Regions from separate parts of the Homo sapiens genome. Here region 1 is linked to region 2. Evidence: fine-mapped expression QTL. A gene starts in region 2. The other region holds a variant in brackets. All regions are shown on one strand. Distances are between the middles of the regions. Region 1 overlaps IPO5 (importin 5). Region 2 holds the start of IPO5 (importin 5).

Region 1 (5,524 bases), 23 kb before region 2:
AATGATTTCAACCAAATATATAACCATATTTGAATACAAAAGTCACCTTAGTCAACAGTTTGGTATTTATGTGTCGACTAAGTATTTTTATTTTGAATGAGTAAATTACAAAGATATTTACTGAGCCCTGGCCAATTTTTCAGTTCATAGAAAATATTTCTATATTTGCTGTATCAGACTTAATGCTAATTTTATTTCATTTGATCTCTTATAAAACGCTTATTTCATTAGGCAAAAAAGAAAGGGGCATTCTATGGCACCAGAGAGCTTCTCTTAACATTTACTTTTTTGGAGGTCAAATTAGAAAATTCTGTATCACAGTACTTAGTTTACATATTAATACATTCTCAGGATATACAAAGAAAGTAAAAACCTAGTATCTGAATGTTTTCACTAGGAATAAAGAGACTAAGAGAATAACAGTACTTATTTCCAATTGTTCTTTATGAGAAAATGTGCTGAATGCTGATAACTATCCCCAAAGTGATGTAAGTGATAAAAGATTTACAACAGGCACCAATTGGAATTCAAGCTAAACCAGACACTGGTATTTAGTTCAATAGAAGAGAGATTCCCCACTAGGCTTGACAATAGAGACTTAAGCAACTGGAGGGAACAGAGAGAATTAAACTAGCTTACTAATTACAATGCTGTTCTGCTTTGTAACACATGAAAATTTCTATTATTTTCATGCTGGGATTAAAAAGTTATTTTGGCGAAAAATTATCTCAAGAGTTACCAGAAAGCATTAATTTTTTTTTTTAAAGCATCATCATATCCCCAAGGCAAACTGGTGCAATACATGCATATCACTTCTAGGAACAAATGCTACTTTTCAGTATTCTACAAGCAAACCTGGCAAAGTATGCAAAGATAGGTATACATGTACTCCTGCGCATAGTACTATTTTTAAAAGAGCAGGTCACTGGAAACCGCAATATCCATTTCATAGAGGGTTGCTTATATAAATATCTATCCATATGATGTATAATCTATAGCTGACCAAAACCTCACTTATGAGGCAATGTGAAATATAGAGTGAAAAATTCAAGTTGCAAAATAGTGTAAATAGTATTATAAGCCCATTAAGTAAAAAATGAATGTGTATGTTAAATTTTCAGCGAAGATTCACGACACAAGCGGTCACCTTTGGGAAACGGGATAAGAAACGATTCACTGTTTGAATTTTTACCCTGAACATGTATTACATGTATAATAAATAAAAACTTAATGAAGTGAATAGTAGAAAATGCTTTTTCACATAGAACCGAATTTTGGGTGTGTTTACTTCACTTAATATAAAACCCCTAAGTGTAACCAGCATATCCACCATCTATTCAAAACAACGATTACCACCGTCGTTTCAAAGACACCTGGAAAAGTCTTCAGGCCTGAGTTCAGAAGAGGACTTGCAGTCAATTTCATTGGCTATATGTAAAATTAATTTTTGTTATTTAAAAATATCTGGCTGAACATCCTTCACTTAATCTTATGAAACTCTACAATCGCATGGTTGCAAAAACCCCATATATAACCAAGTTTGGCGGTCAGCTAAGAAACTGGAAAGTTTCTCCCTCCCCTGGAAGTATCCCACAAGAATCGTGGTCTCAACGCTGAAAATGTAACATCAGTCTTCTAGTGAACTTGGTAAATGAGCTTACAGATATATTTAAAATACTGTCACTTGAAAGTCTCTCCACATTTTGGAGGCCAGGAACAAGAGGTGGTTTGAAAAAAAGAGATTACGGTTAGATTTAATGAAGTTGAAGACTTAAACATATGGTACTGGCCCAGTTAAACAACGGAAGTCCCACTACATCCCATTTATCCCACGATTCTCTAGAGAGCAAAGAAAATTTGTCTGAAGAGCAGAGTAAGTGTATTATAAGCCCAGAGTAAGGTGGAAACTGCATAGAAAGAAACCCTAAAGGCAACTTCACAAAACTGGAGGTGGGAGGGGGTAGGGAAATCTGGCTTCTGATGTTAGGAACTAGAATGAGAAAGAACTAAATGGAAAAAGGCAGTAGGGACAAGGCAGGGCACATATTTAAAAAGAGAGGGACAGACGGTGTGGGAGATGAGCAGGGGTAGAAGCAGGCGTGACGGGTCAGGTAGCAGCCAGGGTTTGGGAGACCCACAGCGCTAGGCTGGGTGGAGACAGCGGCTGGAAGGGCAGTGGGGGCTCCCACTGGGAGAAAGCGGGAAAGGGGCAAGCGGGGAGCTGGGAAGCGGGGTGGCCAGCGAAGTTGGGGCCCCGGGCCCGCCCGGCACCCCACACCTGGACGGGGGCGCGTCGGGAGCGGCCGCACGTGGGTGCGAGCGGCGGCGGGGAGGTAACTGGTGCCAGGCGCCGCGGCAGCAATGGCCGGAAAAGCCCGGGGGCACGACCGGGAGCCGCGGGCCGCCTCACACGTGGGCTGCGCGGCCGCCGCCCGCCGGGCCCAGCCTGCGCGGCCGCCGCGGACCGGCCGAGGCCCGGTGCGGCTGGCGTCGGTAAAGGGTCGGCGCGCCGGCCAGGGCGCGAAGACTGGGGCGGCGAACTCGGTTACCTCTGCCTGTTTCCGGACCACATTGTCGGGGCTGAGCAGGTTTCCCAGGAGCAGGTAGAACTGTTGCTGCTCCGCCGCGGCCGCCGCCATTGCGCTAGGCGTGAGAGAGAAGGAGGGAGGGGAGACAGGAGCCGTGAGGCGCGCTCGCGGGCCGCGGGAGGGGCGGGGGCGGGCCCAGCGCGGGGACCGGCACCAGCGGCGGCGCGGGGCTTGCGGGGGGCCGCGCGGGAAGGGCGGGGCAAAGGGGAAAGGGGAGGACGGGGCGGGGCCTCGCGGCCTCTCACCCCGCCGCGGCCGCCGGCGCCGGCGCCTCACTGGCCTTGGGCGCAGGGGGGCGGGGCCGAGGACGCCTCCTCGGGGGCCGCGCTGATTGGCCACGCACCCTGCGGTGC[C/G]GTCAGTGGCCGCGCATCGGGGGCCGCCGGCTGTACGCCGGTTGGGTAGGCTGGCGGCTTCGCAGCCGGGCCAGGGCTGGGATCGGGGTCGGGGTCGGGGTTGAGGTCGAGGTCGAGGCCTGGGCTGGGGCCAGGGCTGCGTCGCGGGGACAGCGGGAGGAGCCGGCCGGCGGGCCCGGCCGCGGCAAGGGGCCTGAGGCCTGGCCGGGGAGGAGGGGCCAGCTGCTGAGCGCGGGAGATTTCGGCGCCGCGGGCTGGTCGGCCTCCTTCTAGCGACCCCCGGCCCCTCCCCGTGGCCGCTGGAGCAGGCCCCACCCCTTTGGTCCCTCGCTCCCTGGGATCCAGCCCTTCACCCACCCCCAGGAAGGCAGTCCCTTTAGACCCACTTCCTACGTACCTTCTACTCACGGACTTCTCGCTTTCAGACCCTCCGACCTCCCCCAGGGCTGTGGACTCAGGGCGCCCCTTCCTCCCGTCGCGCTCTCCAGTGACTCACGCCTGGGGCTTGCCCGGAAGAGGGGTTACTCAGCCCGGGGCTGTCCCGCCAGGCCGCCCGTCCCCAGCCCGCGGTCGTCTTCGGATGTACACGTAGCAAACATGCCCCCACCCCAGGATCTGTGACTGTTCCCTTGAATCCCTTGTTTAGGGATTCTGTTCTCGCAATGATTGGGGAACGTCAAGAGAGACACCTTTCTTCCTAAAGGAGCCCTGGTTTACAGGGCTGATTATCTCAATCTCAGTCTAGGAACCTAGAGGCGTAATTTCAATTTCAGCATTCTAATGCGCAGATAATACACGCGATGTTCTTTAACTCCTGGGGCTGCCAAAGGCAGAGAGCAGTGTACAAATCAGAGGGTACTTTTGTTGAGACCCTGTTGTATCCAATACATTGGGCTAAGGGTGTCAGTGGAAGCCTTGCTCTGTCGCCTAGGCTGGAGTGCAGTGGCGCGATCTCGGTTTAGTGCAACCTCTGCCTCCCGGGTTCAAACAATTCTCATGCCTCAGCCTCCCAAATACCTGGGATTACAGGCATGTTCCACCATGCCCAGCTAACTTTTTTGTATTTTTAGTAGAAACGGGGTTTCACCAAGTTGGCCCAGTTGGTCTCGAACTCCTGACCTCAGGCGATACCAGCCCCCCCCGCCCTCCCCCCGCCTCGGCCTCCCAAAGTGCTAGGATTACAGGCATGAGCCACTGCGCCCAGCTACAAAAACAATTCATTTCTGCCCCAAAGGGACACTACATCTCTAGTGAGGAGGTTTCATACTGGGTGAGATGGAAGAGTAGTTCTACACCGCTGGCAGTACATAGTATTTAACTTAGGGAATTTAATTTCCTGTTGGCTATTCTGCTGCAGTTCTGCTCTTTGAAAGTCAAAACATTTGCTCTTTGGTGAATGATTTTAAATCTTGGCCACTGTGTTTAGAATCTGGGCTGAGCCCTGGGATCCACGTGCAATTGGGATGGCCAGCCAAGATTTTTTTCTAAAGGATTCTAATTGGTTCCTAGAGAAAATTCTCTTAGAAAGTTTTGGGCCATGACAATGATGGGTTCTCTACAGGAGGTCTGCAGACCTATCTTTGTTGAATTTATATTTCTTAGATGTGACAAGTTTTCATTCTTATGCCACGTTATTTCTTCTAGACAAACCACTATGCACATTACTTTGGGGCAGCTTTTTTTTGTTTGATTTTGATTTTTTTTTTTTTTTGTGGGTCGTTGGGGTATCTGGATTCTGAGGAGGTTTCATCATCAGCCAAGGTTATTAAGGTTTTAAGAATTACAGGCCGGGCAAGGTGGCTCACGCCTGTAATCCCAGCACTTTGGGGGGCCGAGGTGGGCGGATCACCTGAGGTCAGGAGTTCGAGACGAGCCTGGCCAACATGGTGAAAGCCCGTCTTTACTAAAAATACAAAAATTAGCCAGGTGTGGTGGTGGTGGGCGCCTGTAATCCCAGCTACTCGGGAGGCTGAGGCAGGAGAATCACTTGAACCTGGGAGGTGGAGGTTACAGTGAGCCGAGATCGTGCCATTGCACTCCAGCCTGGGTGATAGAGCAAGACTCCGTCTCAAAAAAAAAAAAAAAGAATTTCAGACAAAAACAACTCATTCAAATGACTAGGTTAACAGTGAAATATGATAAATTGCTTAGAGGCTGCTTAGGGCATGGCCCGATCTCCAGTTACTTTTTAACACCTGTTGCGATATGTGTTTCTATTGGCAATGAGTCTGTAGGTTACATATATTTGCTTAATAGTTACTAAATAATAGAAATTCCAATCAAGTTTGCAGATATTTGTTACTATTATTATTATTGTTATTATTATTATTTTGAGACAGAGTCTCACTCTGTTGCCCAGGGTGGAGAGCAGTGGTGTGATCTCACTGCAGCCGCCACTTCTTGGGCTCCAGCGATCCTCCCACCTCAGCCCTTCCAACTAGCTGGTCTGCAGGCACAAGCCACCACACCTGGCTAATGTTTCCAGTTTTGGTAGAGATGGGGTCTTCCTGTTACCCAGGCTGGTCTCAAACTCCTGAGTTCGGGCGATCCTCCCACTTTGGCCTCCCAAAGTGCTAGGATTAC
Region 2 (5,000 bases):
TGTAGTTGCAGCTTCCCCCTTAACTAGCTGTGATCCTGAACTGGGCTGTCAATGCTTCCTGAGGCCTCCATTTCCTCATCTGTAAATTGGGGCGAGTTGGGCAGCACCCTAGGGGATCCTCCCAGCTCCGGCGTCTGAGGACCATCAAGTCGGTTATGTCACTGGGTTGTGGTAGAGTGGTGGATACACAGGCCACTTAGGCTTGCTTGCCCTGAGGTGAAATTGTTCTGGAACTCTGGGATTTCAACTCTTATATTTCTGCCTGTGTTTTGGAAGTGTTTTCCCCGCTCATTTTCTCCATCAGACAGTGTCATTTATTGTAGCTGCCAACATAAAATGACAACTGTCTCCACTTGTCAGCTGCTCTCATCATCTGGTTTGCTGTGTGCTTTGGAAGGCAGATGACCAAGCATGTATGAACTAGGCACAAGAGTATATGAACTCAGCACAGAGAAGACAGCTGAGGATATTTCCTGTAGAGTAGCATGCATGAACTTTATAAGGTATTTGGCCACTTAGGTATTTTTCTTTTTTTTTTTTCGTGATAGGGTCCCACTCTGTCACCCAGGCTGGAGTGCAGTGGCACAGTCATGGCTCACTGCAGTCTTGACCTCCCCAGCTCAAGGAATCCTCTCACCTCAGCCTCCTGAGTCCCTGGAATTACAGATGCATTCTGCCATAACTGGCTACTTTTTTCTATATTTTGTAGAGACAGGGTCTCACTATGTTGCCTAGGCTGACCTTAAACTCCTAGGCCCAAGTGATCCTCCCACCTCAGCCTCCCAAAGTGCTGGGATTATAGGTGTGAGCCACTGTGCCCGGCCGGTATTTTTCATTTGGAGGTTTATAATTGCATTCCAGAGTTTTAACTCTACTGGAAAGCTAACACAATGTTCCAACACAAATCTGTCTCGCATACTAGTTAGTGTCTTTGAGGTTCCATCACAGACAAATGACGGAAGAAAGCAAAACTGTTTAGGAAGGTCTAAATTAAACATTCTATAATAAAGGCATTAGCATTTGACAAGTCCCTGGTATCTAATACTTTATAAGATGACAATGAGCCTTTTTTACCCCTAGTTAGGGGATTAAGTTCTAGGAGAAGAAGTTAACCAGGTGGTTCCTTAAGTAAGTAATCTTTTGACTACTTAGGGATTGATTTTGTTTTCCCATAATGAAAATGAATTCTGTTTTCCTTCATTTACTTGACTTTAGTGATCTCTGAAAACTAAGATAAAATATACTCGGCCTCTGAGGGAATACAACCATAATGTACAGAAGACAAAATAGATACTCTAAAGATTTTAAATGGAACATCTTGGGATTTGAGAAATTAAAGGCAGTGAAAATCATACTGCTTCTAAGCACTTTTTATTCTCCCTATAGGAAAGCAGGGTAGATAATCCTGATGGGTTGGATTTCAATTAATTGGTGAATAGAAGGTAAAATGATCAAGAAACAGATATCATAATTATAGGAGAAAATAGCAGGAGCTTTTTGTTTTAAAGGAAATAAAGAATAGAATTCACAGTGAAGAGAGACAGAACAAAATCTGATAATTCTAGACTCACTTGAGTGCCGCAAGTATCCTGATCAGGGAAAACAGTTGTGCCTACACATGGGTCCTGGAAAGGCTTCTCCCCGGAACCACCTAAGTGAAATAAAAACTGATTTCTGACTGTTTCAGGATGGCAACACAGACCTTTAGGATAATAACCCACATTCTTTTGGGCAACTCTAATCAAGTGATGCCTCCTTAAGGATACAGAGTTAGTCCCCAGCTCACGTAAGGCACAATACCAAAGAACAATGAGCCATCATGAAATCGTCATTGTTTCATACTTGGTTTTTGTGTAGAATGTTCTCCAAATCATTGTCTCTGACGTTTCCTTCCTCTTGGGTATGACTGTGGTGACGTCAGGAGACGAGCTAAAGGGACCTCCTGGATCTCACAGGGAAACTCTTTCCCTCCAGTATCACGCTAAATTGTTCCTCAGTGCAGATGAAATTCTTAAATGGTTTCATCTGAATGTGAGGTTTTGGGATGACTTACTGTGGTCAGAGCTGTTCCCGGCTGCTCCAGTTGTGGGAGGTCATCAATCCCACAGTTCTGACCTCCTGGCTCAGAGACGTCACCGTGGAGACACCTGGCTGCTATTGTGACACGCAGGAGGTCAGCTGGCTCCTGCTAGTGGGCATTTACACTGCCCACCCTGCCAGCTTCACAGGCCCACACTGCACAGGCATTTAGACGTTACAGGGTAGCCCAAGCTCCCAAAGCTGTGGAAAGGAAAGGGAGCTATCTATTGGCCTTTGAGAACTCAAAACCCATGTTGCTGGGGGCCACTCAGATTGGGTACAAATGTGTCATCAAATTCAGTTTTGAAACTGTCTGAGTAGCTTCTTTACCCACAGATTTTGATTCTATTCACTACTCAATACTGAAAAGAGAAATTGATCTCTCAAATAGACAAAGATAAATTTGTATGGAAACAACAGGAAATTCCATATTACATACGTTTATGTCAACTGGGTTTGTGATTAAATTACTTTTTCTTTTATTTTAGTTGACATGTAATAATTATAAATATTGGCTGGGCGGGGTGGCTCATGCCTGTAATTCCAGCACTTTGGGAGGCCGAGGTGGGAGGATCATTTGAGCTCAGGAGTTCAAGACCAGTCTTGGCAACATGGCAAAACCCCATCTCTATGAAAAATGCAAATATTAGATGCGTGTGGCAGTGCACACCTGTAGTCCCAGCTGCTCAGGAAGCTGAAGTGGGAGGATCATCTGAGCCGGGGGAGGTTGAAGCTGCAGTGAGCTGTGATTGCACCACTGCACTCCAGCCTGGGCAACAGAGTGAGACCTTGTCTCAAAAAATAAACAATAAAAAATTGCAGATATTTATGGGATGTAATTAAATTTTTATATGACAGATTAACATCAATTTTGCCCTGTATTCTCATGGATCTCAATGCCCTAGCTTTGTACATTTAGCTTTTCTTTTTTTTTTGAGACAGATTCTCACTCTGTTGCCCAGGCTGGAGTGCAGTGGCGTGATCTCGGCTCACTGCAACCTCCACCTCCCGGGTTCAAGAAATTCTCCTGCCTCAGCCTCCCAAGTAGCTGGGATTACAGGTGCCCACCACCATGCCCGAATAATTTTTGTATTTTAGTACAGATGGGGTTTCACCACGTTGGCCAGGCTGGTCTTGAACTCCTGACCTCAAGTGATCCATCTGCCTCGGCCTCTCAAAGTGCTGGGATTACAGGCATGATCCCCTGCGCTGGCCTAGCATTTTGTTGTTTTTATTAATTCAGATCATTAATTAAAGCCAAACTCCATTTTTGTAATTATTTATTTCTTTTTTTTTTGATACAGAGTCTCTCTCTGTTGCCCAGGCTGGTGTGATCTCAGCTCACTGCAACCTCTGCCTCTCTGGTTCAAGCGATTCTTCTGCCTCAGCCTCCCAAGTAGCTGGGATTACAGGCACGCGCCACCATGCTCGGCTAATTTTTATATTTTTAGTAGAGACGGGGTTTCACCATGTTAGCCAGGATGGTCTCGATCTCCTGACTTCGTAATCTGCCCACCTTGGCCTCCCAAAGTGCTGGGATTACAGGCATGAGCCAACGCACCCGGCCTATTTTTGATTTTTAAATTGTTTCATAGGACATGGGCAGACTCCTTTGTATAGGTCACATTTTTTTCTTGGTAACGTGTGATGTCTAAGCACTTTCTAGTGTCACCCCGCATATCCTGAAAGTTCTTCAGCACTATTCCTTGCTTCTTCGTCCTCATCCTATGTCACTGGTTCTTTTTTTGTTTTTGAGACAGGGGTCTCATTATGTTACCCAGGCTGGTCTCGAACTATGGGCTCAAGAGATCCTCCTGCCTCAGCCTCCCAAGTGGTTGGGACTGCAGGAGCTCGCTACTGCACCTGACTTCTAACATTTTGGCTTGTGGGCAGGTGTCTTCATGGCATTTTGCTCAAGCATCTTACCAAGGGTCTGATACCAGAATTTACATAGATTCAGAATCAGCGATTGAATGGTTACAAGGTTACTGCAAAATGTATGAAGAACATTTTATTTAGTTACGTATTTGTTTATTTTTTAGTTCTTTTTTTAGAGACAGTCTTGCACTGTTACCCACCCTGGAGTCCAGTGATGCAATCATGGCTCACTGCATGCCCCACCATACTTGGTTAATGTTCTAAAAAAATGTTTGTAGACGTTGGGGGAGGGTCTCACTGTGTTGCCTAGGCTGATCTTGAACTCCTGGCCTCAAGTGAGCTGGGAGCACCTTGGCCTCCCAAAGTGCTGGGATTACAGGGGTGAGCCATTGTGCCCTTCCTGAAGAACATTTTAAAAGAACAAATCCGAGAAGTTTCTCCAGTGCCTATGACATTGACCAGTTGCTTGGTGTATTAGTCTGTTTTCATGCTGCTGATAAAGACCGTGGCTGGGCACAGTGGCTCATGCCTCTAATCCTAGCACTTTGGGAGGCTGAGGTCAGGAGTTCGAGACCACCCTGGCCAACATGGCAAAACCCTGTCTCTACTAAAAATAGAAAAATTAGCTGGGCATGGTCGTGGGTGCCTGTAGTCCCAGCTACTTGGGAGGCTGAGGCAGGAGAATCACTGAACCCAGGAGGTGGAGGTTGCAGTGAGCCGAGATTGTGCCACTGTACTCCAGCCTGGGTGACAGAGCAAGACTTGGTCTCAAAAAAAAAAAAGAAAAAAAAAAAGACATACCTGAGACTGGGTAATTTATAAAGAAAAAGAGGTTTAATGGACTCACAGTTCCATGTGGCTGGGGAGGCCTCATAGTCATGGTGGAAAGCAAAAGATACATCTTACATGGTGGCAGGCAAGAGAGAATGAGAACCAAGTGAAAGGAGAAACCTCTTATAAAATCGTCAGATCTCGTGAGGCTTATTCACTACCACAAGAACAGTATGAGGGAAACTGCCCCCATGGTTCAAATATCTCCTACC

The links. PIP is the estimated chance that this variant, and not a neighbour inherited with it, causes the effect.
Region 1: its variant is fine-mapped to the expression of IPO5 in whole blood (INTERVAL, PIP above 0.99).

Annotation. Positions count from the first base shown.
Region 1 is chr13:97,973,812-97,979,335 of GRCh38, reverse strand. It overlaps IPO5 (importin 5), which reads right to left. Exons shown (of 29, transcript NM_002271.6): 4 at 2,550-2,643. The coding sequence starts at 2,639. Among named protein-coding and RNA genes, the nearest start is that of IPO5, 23 kb to the right of the region's middle. RefSeq lists silencers at 2,139-2,488, 2,669-3,398. The variant C/G (reference allele first, on the strand shown) is at 2,942.
Region 2 is chr13:97,950,770-97,955,769 of GRCh38, reverse strand. It overlaps IPO5 (importin 5), which reads right to left and starts at 2,095. Exons shown (of 29, transcript NM_002271.6): 1 at 2,054-2,095; 2 at 1,572-1,651.